Homo sapiens: one gene and its partners. The protein of the gene in region 3 purifies or fractionates together with the protein of the main gene of each other region. This does not show direct contact. Each region holds a gene or a part of one and is shown on either strand. Other genes may lie near its edges. The genes, in order: YME1L1, MTMR14 and ARHGAP20.

Evidence for each region.
Region 1: the proteins of ARHGAP20 (region 3) and YME1L1 purify together in Homo sapiens (affinity purification with mass spectrometry, with the first as the bait; one large-scale study listed by BioGRID). This does not show direct contact.
Region 2: the proteins of ARHGAP20 (region 3) and MTMR14 purify together in Homo sapiens (affinity purification with mass spectrometry; one large-scale study listed by BioGRID and IntAct). This does not show direct contact.

What each region holds. Positions count from the first base shown.
Region 1 is NC_000010.11:27,109,549-27,113,089, reverse strand, and holds the end of YME1L1 (ATP-dependent zinc metalloprotease YME1L1), read left to right. Parts: intron 1-969; coding exon 970-1,113; 3' UTR 1,114-2,979; downstream 2,980-3,541. UniProt on the Homo sapiens protein: ATP-dependent metalloprotease that catalyzes the degradation of folded and unfolded proteins with a suitable degron sequence in the mitochondrial intermembrane region.
Region 2 is NC_000003.12:9,655,888-9,659,541, reverse strand, and holds part of MTMR14 (phosphatidylinositol-3,5-bisphosphate 3-phosphatase MTMR14), read right to left. Parts: intron 1-3,654. UniProt on the Homo sapiens protein: Lipid phosphatase that specifically dephosphorylates the D-3 position of phosphatidylinositol 3-phosphate and phosphatidylinositol 3,5-bisphosphate, generating phosphatidylinositol and phosphatidylinositol 5-phosphate.
Region 3 is NC_000011.10:110,604,415-110,608,068, reverse strand, and holds part of ARHGAP20 (rho GTPase-activating protein 20), read left to right. Parts: intron 1-1,319; coding exon 1,320-1,508; intron 1,509-3,654. UniProt on the Homo sapiens protein: GTPase activator for the Rho-type GTPases by converting them to an inactive GDP-bound state.

The DNA of each region.
Region 1 (3,541 bases), on a different chromosome or scaffold from region 3:
TGCTGCCATGCCTAGCTAATTTTGTTATTTTTTGTAGAGAGCATTTCACTATGTTACCCAGGCTGGTGTCGAACTCCTGGGCTCAAACGATCCACCTGCCTTGGCCTCCCAAAGTGCTGGGATTACAGGTGTGAGCCACCGCACCCAGCCAGGCAGGTTTTAAGGGTAAGACTGACCAGCCTGGGCAACATGGCAAAACCTCATCTCTACAAAACATAGAAAAATTAGCTGGGCATGGTGGTTCATGCCTGTAGTCCCAGCTACTTGGGCTGAGGTGGGAGGATCACCTGAGCCCAGGGAGGTTGAGGCCGTAGTGAGTTGTGATTGCCTGACTTCACTCCAGCCTAAGCAACAGTGAGACTGAAAAAAAAATAGAGAGAGAGAGAGTGACAGAGCTGAGTGCCAAAGTCTTTAGTGAGTAAGGACTATGTTTGTCAGATGGCACAATGAAGACGGTTGGATAGCTCCATAGTCAAATGGCCTGGACTTCAACAGAATAGGAAGAGTGCATTATATAAGAGGGTAGGTTAGTAATGGTCTGAAAGAGGTAATGGGAACAATGAGCTCAGCTGTTTACTGTGAAGTAACTAGGGTAAACATGAACAAATAGCACTTGAGAGGGCTTAGGGAATGCATTCTCCACAGGAGGGACCATGGGTTTGATTATTTCAAGGAAGTAGAGGGAATGCTTTAGAGTAGTTAAGGATACAGAAAGTTTGTATGATGGAAAGGTTTAGAGAGTGTTATAGAAGAGGTGGTCTCTGCCTTCTCAGGTGTTTATTCTCTTTTCCTTACTATGTTATAATGCACAAATTATCTCTACTGTAGAATCAAGATTCTACATGATTTTATAAATATAAACAGATTTCATATTTTTTAGGGTACATAAAGTTTTTCTTTCTCTTCCCATTGACTGGTTTTCGCATCCCTGCATTTGCTGCTGCTTACGTATCTCCTTTTCTGTTTCAGGACTCATATGAACGAGCAAAACATATCTTGAAAACTCATGCAAAGGAGCATAAGAATCTCGCAGAAGCTTTATTGACCTATGAGACTTTGGATGCCAAAGAGATTCAAATTGTTCTTGAGGGGAAAAAGTTGGAAGTGAGATGATAACTCTCTTGATATGGATGCTTGCTGGTTTTATTGCAAGAATACAAGTAGCATTGCAGTAGTCTACTTTTACAACGCTTTCCCCTCATTCTTGATGTGGTGTAATTGAAGGGTGTGAAATGCTTTGTCAATCATTTGTCACATTTATCCAGTTTGGGTTATTCTCATTATGACACCTATTGCAAATTAGCATCCCATGGCAAATATATTTTGAAAAAATAAAGAACTATCAGGATTGAAAACAGCTCTTTTGAGGAATGTCAATTAGTTATTAAGTTGAAAGTAATTAATGATTTTATGTTTGGTTACTCTACTAGATTTGATAAAAATTGTGCCTTTAGCCTTCTATATACATCAGTGGAAACTTAAGATGCAGTAATTATGTTCCAGATTGACCATGAATAAAATATTTTTTAATCTAAATGTAGAGAAGTTGGGATTAAAAGCAGTCTCGGAAACACAGAGCCAGGAATATAGCCTTTTGGCATGGTGCCATGGCTCACATCTGTAATCCCAGCACTTTTGGAGGCTGAGGCGGGTGGATTGCTTGAGGCCAGGAGTTCGAGACCAGCCTGGCCAACGTGGTGAAACGCTGTCTCTACTAAAATACAAAAAAATAGGGCTGGGCGCGGTTGCTCACGCCTGTAATCCCAGCACTTTTCAGAGGCCAAGGCGGGCAAATCACCTGAGGTCAAGAGTTTGAGACCAGCCTGGCCAACATGGTGAAACCCCATCTCTACTAAACATGCAAAAATTACCTGGGCATGGTGGCAGGTGCTTATAATCCCAGCTACTCTGGGGGCCAAGGCAGGAGAATTGCTTGAGCCTGGGAGATGGAGGTTGCAGTGAGCTGAGATCATGCCACTGCACTCCAGCCTGGGCAACAGAGCAAGACTCTGCCTCAAAAAAAAATTAAAATAAATTTAAATACAAAAAAAAATAGCCAGGTGTGGGGTGCATGCCTGGAATCCCAGCTACTTGAGAGGCTGAGGCACGAGAATTGCTTGAACCCAGGAGGTGGAGGTTGCAGTGAGCCAAGATCACAGGAGCCACTGCACTCCAGCCTGGGTGACAGAGTGAGACTCTGTCTCAAAAAAAAATTAAATAAATTATTATAACCTTTCAGAAATGCTGTGTGCATTTTCATGTTCTTTTTTTTAGCATTACTGTCACTCTCCCTAATGAAATGTACTTCAGAGAAGCAGTATTTTGTTAAATAAATACATAACCTCATTCTGAATAATGTCCCTCATTTTGACTATAACTGTGCTTGGTTTCAAAAGCAAAATTAAACAAAAATCTCAGTCCCCTCCGAAGTGAACTTTGTGTTACCCTGCGTCAGAAATGCCAAGTTGTGTTTACTTTTCATTCAGATTTTGTGAATATGAACATGCTGTTATAGGATCTACAGATGAATATTTAACTCAATAGAAAAATTATTTTAGAACACATTGTATTGGTATTACAACCAGATTATATTCTTGACGTTGACTTCATTAAAATTATCTACAATTTCCTAATAATTTAAGCTGTATATGGTCTTCATTGAAAAAAGATAGATATTGTTACAGGAAGCTTGTTACATTATATTCTTGACCTTTTGGTTGATAATCTTAAATCTTAATGTAATTTCAAACTGGCAGAAATGTTGCCAGCATAATACATGGATGTCTCATATACCCTGCATCCAGATTTACCAGTTGTTATCATTCTGCCCGTTTTTTATTGCCCCAAACCTGTTCTGTCTCCCTCTCTGTATGTACATACATACACGTATAAAATATTGATAAAGTCTTATCTGTCTTAAATTTTTTTACATATTTGTTGAGGTATAATTTACATATGATAAAATTCATTTTAAATGTAGAGTTGAAAGATGTTGTGTGTGTAATCATCACCACAATTAGATTTTAGAACATTTCCATCACCCAAAACATTGTCATGCAAGTGTTTGGATTAATTTTTTAAGAAACTTATGAACTATTTTCAAAGTGACTATAATTTTATGTTCTAACTAGCAATGTAGGAGGGTTATAGTTTCTCCACATCTTTTGCAGTGCTTATAGTCTGCCTTTATAATTATGGCCATTCTAGTGGACCACTCATATCCAAATTAATCTCATCCAAGTTAGATCATTTCTCTAGTGACATAAGATGCTGAGCATCTTCCGGTGCTTATTGGCCATTTGTATATCTTCTTTGGAGAAGTGTCTATTCAGATCTTTTACTTCTTTTAATTGGGTTGTCTTGTTCTTACAAGTTAAAAAAGATATATTCTGAATGCAAGTCCTTTATCAGATCTTGATTTTTTTTTTTTTTTTTTTTTAAGACGAGTCTGGCTCTGTTTCCCAGGCTGGAGTGCAGTGGCGCCATCTCGCCTCACTGCAAGCTCCGCCTCCCGGGTTCACGCCATTCTCCTGCCTCAGCC
Region 2 (3,654 bases), on a different chromosome or scaffold from region 3:
AACCCAGGAGGCGGAGGTTGCGGTGAGCAGAGATCACGCCACTGCACTCCAGCCTGGGCAACAGAATGAGACTCCGTCTTAAAAAAAAAAAAAAAAAGAACCAATTCAGTTTCTGTTCTCTCACTTTTTCCTGTTTTTATTATCTCTTGTCCTTAGGATTCTTTTATTGCAGTGCTAAGCACTGAGCTGTGTCTGGCACATAATACTCACATTCGAAGGGATGAATGTAGGCTTCTGTATTTACATTTGTAATGTATGCACTGAAATTTCTGGCAAGATGTTACCAGGTAGTGAGATTTTGTTGTTTTTTTCCCAACAAGGTCTTCCTCTGTTGCCCAGGCTGCAGTGCAGTGGCGCCATGGTTCACTGCAGCTGACCTCCTGGGCTCAGGTGATCCTCCCACCTCAGACTCCCAGGTAGCTGGGACTACAGGCACATGCCACGATGCTTGGCTAATGCTTTGTATTTTTTGTAGTGACAAGGTGTCACCATGTTGCCCAGACTGTTTAATTCAGTCTGTTTTTTATTCAGTCTATTCAGTTTAATTCAGTCTCAAACTCCTGGGTTCAAGCGAAACGCCCATCTCGGCCTCCCAAGTAACTAGGATTATAGGCGTGAGCCACCATGCCCAGCCAAACTATTTTCAAATACAGAAGAAAATGCTGTTATCACATATTTCCAATAGGAAGCTTTCCCAGACAGGCACCACACTTACCAAACTGGGTGGCTTGTTCCTATAATGTACCCCACAACTTCCTGAGATAAATGTTACTGCTGCTACTATTTAATAGATAAGAGGCACAAAGTAGAGCTTACACCCACATTATCTCACTCAGTCCTCACTTACCCAATTTTACAGATGAGGTAGTTTAATGAGATGAAATCTCTAGCCCAAAGTCACAGAACAGGTAAACAGGGTAGCTGAGATTCTAAACCCTGTGGGTAGCCACTGGGCCCATGGTTTTAACCACTATCCGGCAGGGCCTCACCTGTACTTCCCCTAATTCCAGCTTTTATTAACAATTATTGCTTCTTTATTGGACTCTGTTTCCCACTAGACCTACTGGTAAGGACTTCATCTATCTGGCTTCCAACTTGATCCCTGAGGTCTACTACACAGCAGCAGCTGAACGAACACTGTTGACAAACATGTCTTAGCTATTCAGAGATCCCTGTCCAGGCTTCTATTCCCAGATGATGAACCAAATTGGAGAGGTTCCTTAACAGGACCAAAACATTGCTTAAATCCAATTCTACCCTGTTTAATTCAGTCTATTTTTTATTCAGTCTATTCAGTTTAATTCAGCATCATAGTAACAGCCAAGCCAGACAGTAAAAAAGCAAAAAATGCTATTTCTTCCCACCCAAACATACCCGAAGTCCCCCCTTTCAACAAGCAGGCATCACCCACTCAACATCACTTCAGTAACACTTTAAGGCCTTGCAAGGAGTGAAAAGTAAAAACAAACTCCAACAAGCTCCTCTAAGGTTAATCATGTTCCACAGTGGCCTTGGCCTAACTGTGAGGTTCTGCTAGACAAGGTGGGAGAGCCGTGGTGGTGAAAGATAAGGCAGACAGGTACAGAGTCAGGAAATACAGCTTTTAACCCCACTCTGCTTACTACCTCTGTGATCTTCGGCAAAGGCAAATTACTTCTCTGGGCTTCAACTTCATCTATAAAAGAGTGGTGAGGGCCAGGCGCGGTGGCTCATACCTGTAATCCCAGCACTTTGGGAGGCCGAGACCAGTGGATCACGAGGTCAGGAGTTCAAGACCAGCCTGGCCAAGATGTTGAAACCCCGTCTTTACTAAAAATACAAAAATTGGCCGGGCATGGTGGCACGCGCCTGTAATCCCAGCTACTAGGGAGGCTGAGGCAGGAGAATCACTTGAACCTGAGCGGCAGAGGTTGCAGTGAGCCAAGATCACTTGCGCCACTGCACTCCAGCCTCAGCGACACAGCAAGACTCCATATCAAATTGAAAAAAAAAAAGAGTGGTGATACTGTCTTCTTCACTGAATAGTTGTAGGGCTTAAGCTAGCAAGTAAAACCTCAACACCTGCCAAACAGAGGTACTCAACAAATACTAGTTTCAGTCTCTTTAAGGGATCAACACTAAACTTGTTTCCTTCCAGGAAAAGCTTTTACAAGGCAACCACCACTACGTTTCTCAATGTACTATTATGTTACTGAAGGGTAACATTTGGTATTACCTGAGAGCTTGTTAGAATATGCCAAATCGCAGGCCCACCTCAGGTCTTCTGAATCTCTGCATTGTAGAAAGATCCCCAGTTGATTCACTCATAAAATCAACATAGAAAAGAACCACTCTGTTGGGTGCGGTGGCTCTCACCTCTAATCCCAACACTTTGAAAGGCCGAGGTGAGGAAATCTGTTGAGCTCAGGAGACCCACCTGGGCAATGCAGCGAGACCTGGTCTCTACTAAAAATTAAAAAAAATCAGCTGGGAGTGGTGGTATGTGCCCATATTCCCAGCTACTTGGGAGGCTGAGGTGGGAGAATCACTTGAGCCCAGGGGATCAAGGCCGCAGCAAGCCATGATTGTGCCACTGCATTCCAGACCCCGTCTTAATTAAAAACAAAAACAAAAACAAAAAAACCCACCTTGATTACAGCTGAGCTTAATATCAGAATGTCATCATCAGGGCACAGAGGTAAAACCACCAGCCAGCCAGCACCAAAGAGGGTAGGAAGAAGGGGAACGAAGAGAATGGCAAGGCAAAAACAAAGAAAACAAAACAAAACAAAACCCTCTTGTTCAGAAACTTTAGCTTAAAGATTTACGGAAACTAAGTTTACCCAGCTGGGCGCGGTGGCTCACACCTGTAATCCAGCACTTTGGGAGGCCATGGCAGGCGGATTGTTTGAGCCCAGGAGTTGAGACTAGCCTGGCCATCATGGCAAAACCCATCTCTACTAAAATTCAAGAACTAGCCAGGTGTGGTGCCACACACCTGTAATTCCAGCTACTTGGGAGGCTGATGCACAAGGATCGCTAGAGCCTGGGAGGCAGAGGTTACAGTGAGCCAAGATGGCACCACTGCACTCCAGCCTGGGCAACAGAGCAAGATTCTGTCTTAAAAAAAAAAAGAAACTAAGCTTACCTAATTCTGGAAGGAGGAATTAAGGAAGAGCTAAGAACCATAAATAACAGGGCCATAACAAACCCCAATTCTTTAGGCTTGGCGATCCCAAGTTCTTAGGTTATATAACTGAGGATGTAATACTGTTTCTGTGATCTATTTACAAGAGCCCTTAACACTCTTTTCTTGGAGAACCCCACTACAACCTTGTGAAATGGGCACTCTTTTTTTTTTATTTTTTTGAGATGGAGTCTCACCCTGTCGCCAGGCTGGAATGCAGTGGTTCGATCTTGGCTCAGTGCAGTCTCCGCCTCCTGGGTTCAAGTGATTCTCCTGCCTCAGCCTCCCGAGTAGCTGGGATTACAGGCGTGCGCCACCACACCCAGCTAATTTTTGTATATTTAGTAGATACGGGGTTTCACCATGTTGGCCAGGATGGTCTCAATCTCCTGACCTCATGATCTTGGACTCTCAAAGTGCTGGGATTACAGGTGTGAGCCAGCACGCCCGGCCAAGATGGGCACTCTTATAGACATCCCCACTTTACA
Region 3 (3,654 bases):
ACAAATGTATATGCTCAGATTTAGAATACAGAAAGTGATCATGCACAGAGCTAAAGACAAAATTGACTGTGTTTCAGGTTTTTAATGTTGTCATTTTTGTAATAGTCAATGAGCAATAAAGTTATTAAAAATCAAACACTTGAAATAATTGTTTTAATAAAATATATTAATGAAAACTATGTAGATGGTAACTTTTAGGCTTATGACAGCCCCAAGCTTCCTGACTAGCTCTTACTGAAAAACAATGAGACATAGGACATTATTGTCCCATGATTTAGCAGCAATGCTTAATCATTATTTTAATGTGTTCTGCAAACCTCAATTGTAGATTAGCTGCCGGCTGTTTTGATAAATTGATTTTGTTTTATTATTGTCATAGAAGCCTTTTTCTGTCTTAATCTCTGGAAGCTGCTGTAGTACTTGATATTAATGAAACATTGACATTGTATGCCTAGACCAGCTGAAAAGGAAGAGTAAGAGTTCACTGAGTTACATTTAGTGATAAGTCAGGAATAGAAGGGAACTTGCTCTCTGTACTTAAAAAAAATCTACATCAGTGGTATTTGAGGATTACACTAAAAGGACGTAATTACTTAGAATACTAAAGAGTTAAAATCATGTTGTAGTCAGATGTCCAGGGTTTAGTTTTTATAGTCTGTATATTCGTTTTTGCATCTGTTTCTGTGTTTCTGATCCCCTGCAGTCTTCCTTCTGATTATTGCCTCTGAACATCAATCTCAGAGGGCAGCAGTGAGAGGGAAGCATAAATCAAACCAGTTGAGTAACTAACTGTGTAACTAATAAAAATTAATGAAATGTTTTTAGGCAAACATCTTGTGTTAAATAATATTAATAATAGTGATACTTGACATATATAGATCCTTATACTTCTGTGGTAGGTAGAAAAAATATTTTAAATCATAGATTTGAGACTGAGCAAGGACATGTATTTGCTGAAAATTTATATATCTAGTTAATGTCAAAGGAGACAATAGAATACCTTTAGTTATCCTTAGATGCACGTGTTGGAAAAGTCAGCATTATGGAACTCGCAAACTGATCTGTGCATTCATTCCAAACAAGATAATCTTTAAAGATTTTTTTCTTCTTTTTCTCCCTCCTCTCCTTAAAACTACTTTGGTAGGACCACCTGCATACTGGTCTCCAACTGTAAGAGTGTAAATGATCATTCTGTCAAACAAAGGGATTCTTTATGCCAAAAGTCCCAGGAGTAAATTGCAGTACATTCCTATTTTGCAGTACACATGCTAACAGTACCAGTCAGCCTGAAGTCTACATTTAGATTTGTCTCTGTGTAGGGCATGAATATCCATATGGAATTAAAATGAGCCATCTTCGAGACTCTGCACTCCTGACACCGGGATCAAAGGACTCTACCACCCCTTTCAACCTCCAGGAGCCCTTCCTTATGGAACAGCTCCCCCGAGAGATGCAGTGCCAGTTCATCCTGAAGCCCAGCCGCCTGGCTGCAGCCCAGCAACTGAGTGGTGAGTTGCTTCTAGCAAAAGTTTTCGTTCTTGAACATAAATTTAGTACAAAGGCAAAGACTCAAACCTCCCGCCAGATGAGGTATTTTTTCTTGGAATTTGCTAAGTATTTTGAAAAGGAAAGATGGACTTTTAGAAGAAGATGGTTTTATAAATCAGCAATAGGCATGATTGACTAGGAATCAGCAGCTAGTAGCAATACAGTCTGTTCCTTCTTTCTTCACCATTCTTTCCCCTTTAACCTTATTCCTACTGCAGAGTCAAAGGCACTAAGCAGTGCTGCAGGTGCTTCAATGCCTTCTTTGTACTGTAATACACTCCAACTGTGTGTTCTCCCTAAATGGTTGCATTATAAAAAGGAGGCTGTCAATGATGGGTGTCAGAAGATTGTGATGCCCTACCTGGATTCTAGTTCTGATAAGTATGTGAAGACTAAGATGATTTCTACAGAAGTCTCTCCTTAGTCTACTAATCTAATATGAATTCCCTGTGAACATAGCAGTCTCTTACCCACCCCACAATAAAGACTCTGGAATGATAAAAGTGATCTTCAATATAAGAGAACTGTAATTTGCCCTAACCCAAGTTTGAGCTTTAAGCTCTGTCTGAAAGGAAGATTGTATAAGCAACAGAAGAAAATTGATATCAAAAAGTATGAGTGAGATAGTAGAAAATTGATTGTGAATTTCTATAGCTACCTTTGTCAATGTGAACCAACTGGGAGACCCATGGATTTGCGTTTTGCAAAGAACCAAATTAGGACCCCAGGTGTAATAAGTTTAAAGGGATGGCGTAGACCTTGAGAGATCACTGAGGCTACCTTCCTGCCACTTGACAGATTATTGGCATCATCTGAGTGCCAGGGGAAAGTCTGAAATTCTTCATCTGTGTGTGATTCAACTGACATAGCATTAATGAAAAATTAGCTCATACTGTTTTTATCTTCATTGCAGAACAACTGTACTTTAAGAAACATTTGTATGTAGCTATCTAAACTTAGAGAAAACGAATTAAATCAGCATTCATTGTAAAGAGTTTTTTTTGCCTTAAGTGTTAATACACTCCAAGATTGTTTTAAACAGAACCTTCTCTAATGCATTTAAAGTTAATTTCTAATTTATATTTCATACTAAAACATATAGTTTCTGAAACAACTGCATCAAGAAATTGTAACAGCATTGTGAAACTTATTTTCCTGTTCGCCCCTTTGATTCAAGATTTTGACATTTTATTGGACAAAAAGAGTTGTAACCACCATCTGTTTTCTTCAGCCAGCCTTTGTTCATTCTATTTTTCATCTCTGGAAGCCCAGATTCCTTCTGCTTCTTTCAAACCTACTAAACTCTACCACTTTCTCCATCTGTTAGTCCCCGTGTCCATCTTTACTTTCCTCCTTATGCAACTTGAATTCCATGGTTATCGTGATCATCCCTGTCTAGCAGAAAACTTCTGTTTCTTTGACCTTCTTTTCTACATTCCTATACATCTCCTAAAATCTCATCTCTAGATTAACTCTGTGCACTGTTGGAAGAAATCATATAGCATCAAGACTACTTGGTATCATTAATGACCAACCTTAATGGGCACTTCATACTGGGTGAGAGTAGTCTTAACTTTGTTTCTGTGCAGCATTCTTCAACTACTTGAGTCAACTGTCTTATATAAATTTCCACCCACATGCACAGCCAGCCTGTCACTTTCTGTTGATGACCTAGCCTCAAACTTTATACTTTACCAAAGTCATTGGTAAATCAGTAGATCAGTCATCAGGGACTCCCTCATCTTACCAACATCAGATACACAAATTTACCTTGAATTTGTTAACAGACATCTCTCTATGATAGTAAATTGAGGTTTTGGACTCTAAAATTTTTCGTTCCCCTTGGGTAATTTTGAAAGGGGAACACTGAGATATCATGGTCTTTCCATCCACTAAAATGTGAGCTCCATGAAGGCAGGGATTTTTATAAAGGGTATCTTTATAACTAGGCTGAGGAGAATAATAATCTTCTACTCTTCTACCTTTGCACCTGTGTTTTTCAAAACTATTTTTCTGGGTCCCTTGTCAATTTTATTTTATAATAATCAGAAATCAGGAATCCTAAGGGTTTTAACCAGTTTTGCTAATGACTTGCTCAACTAAATT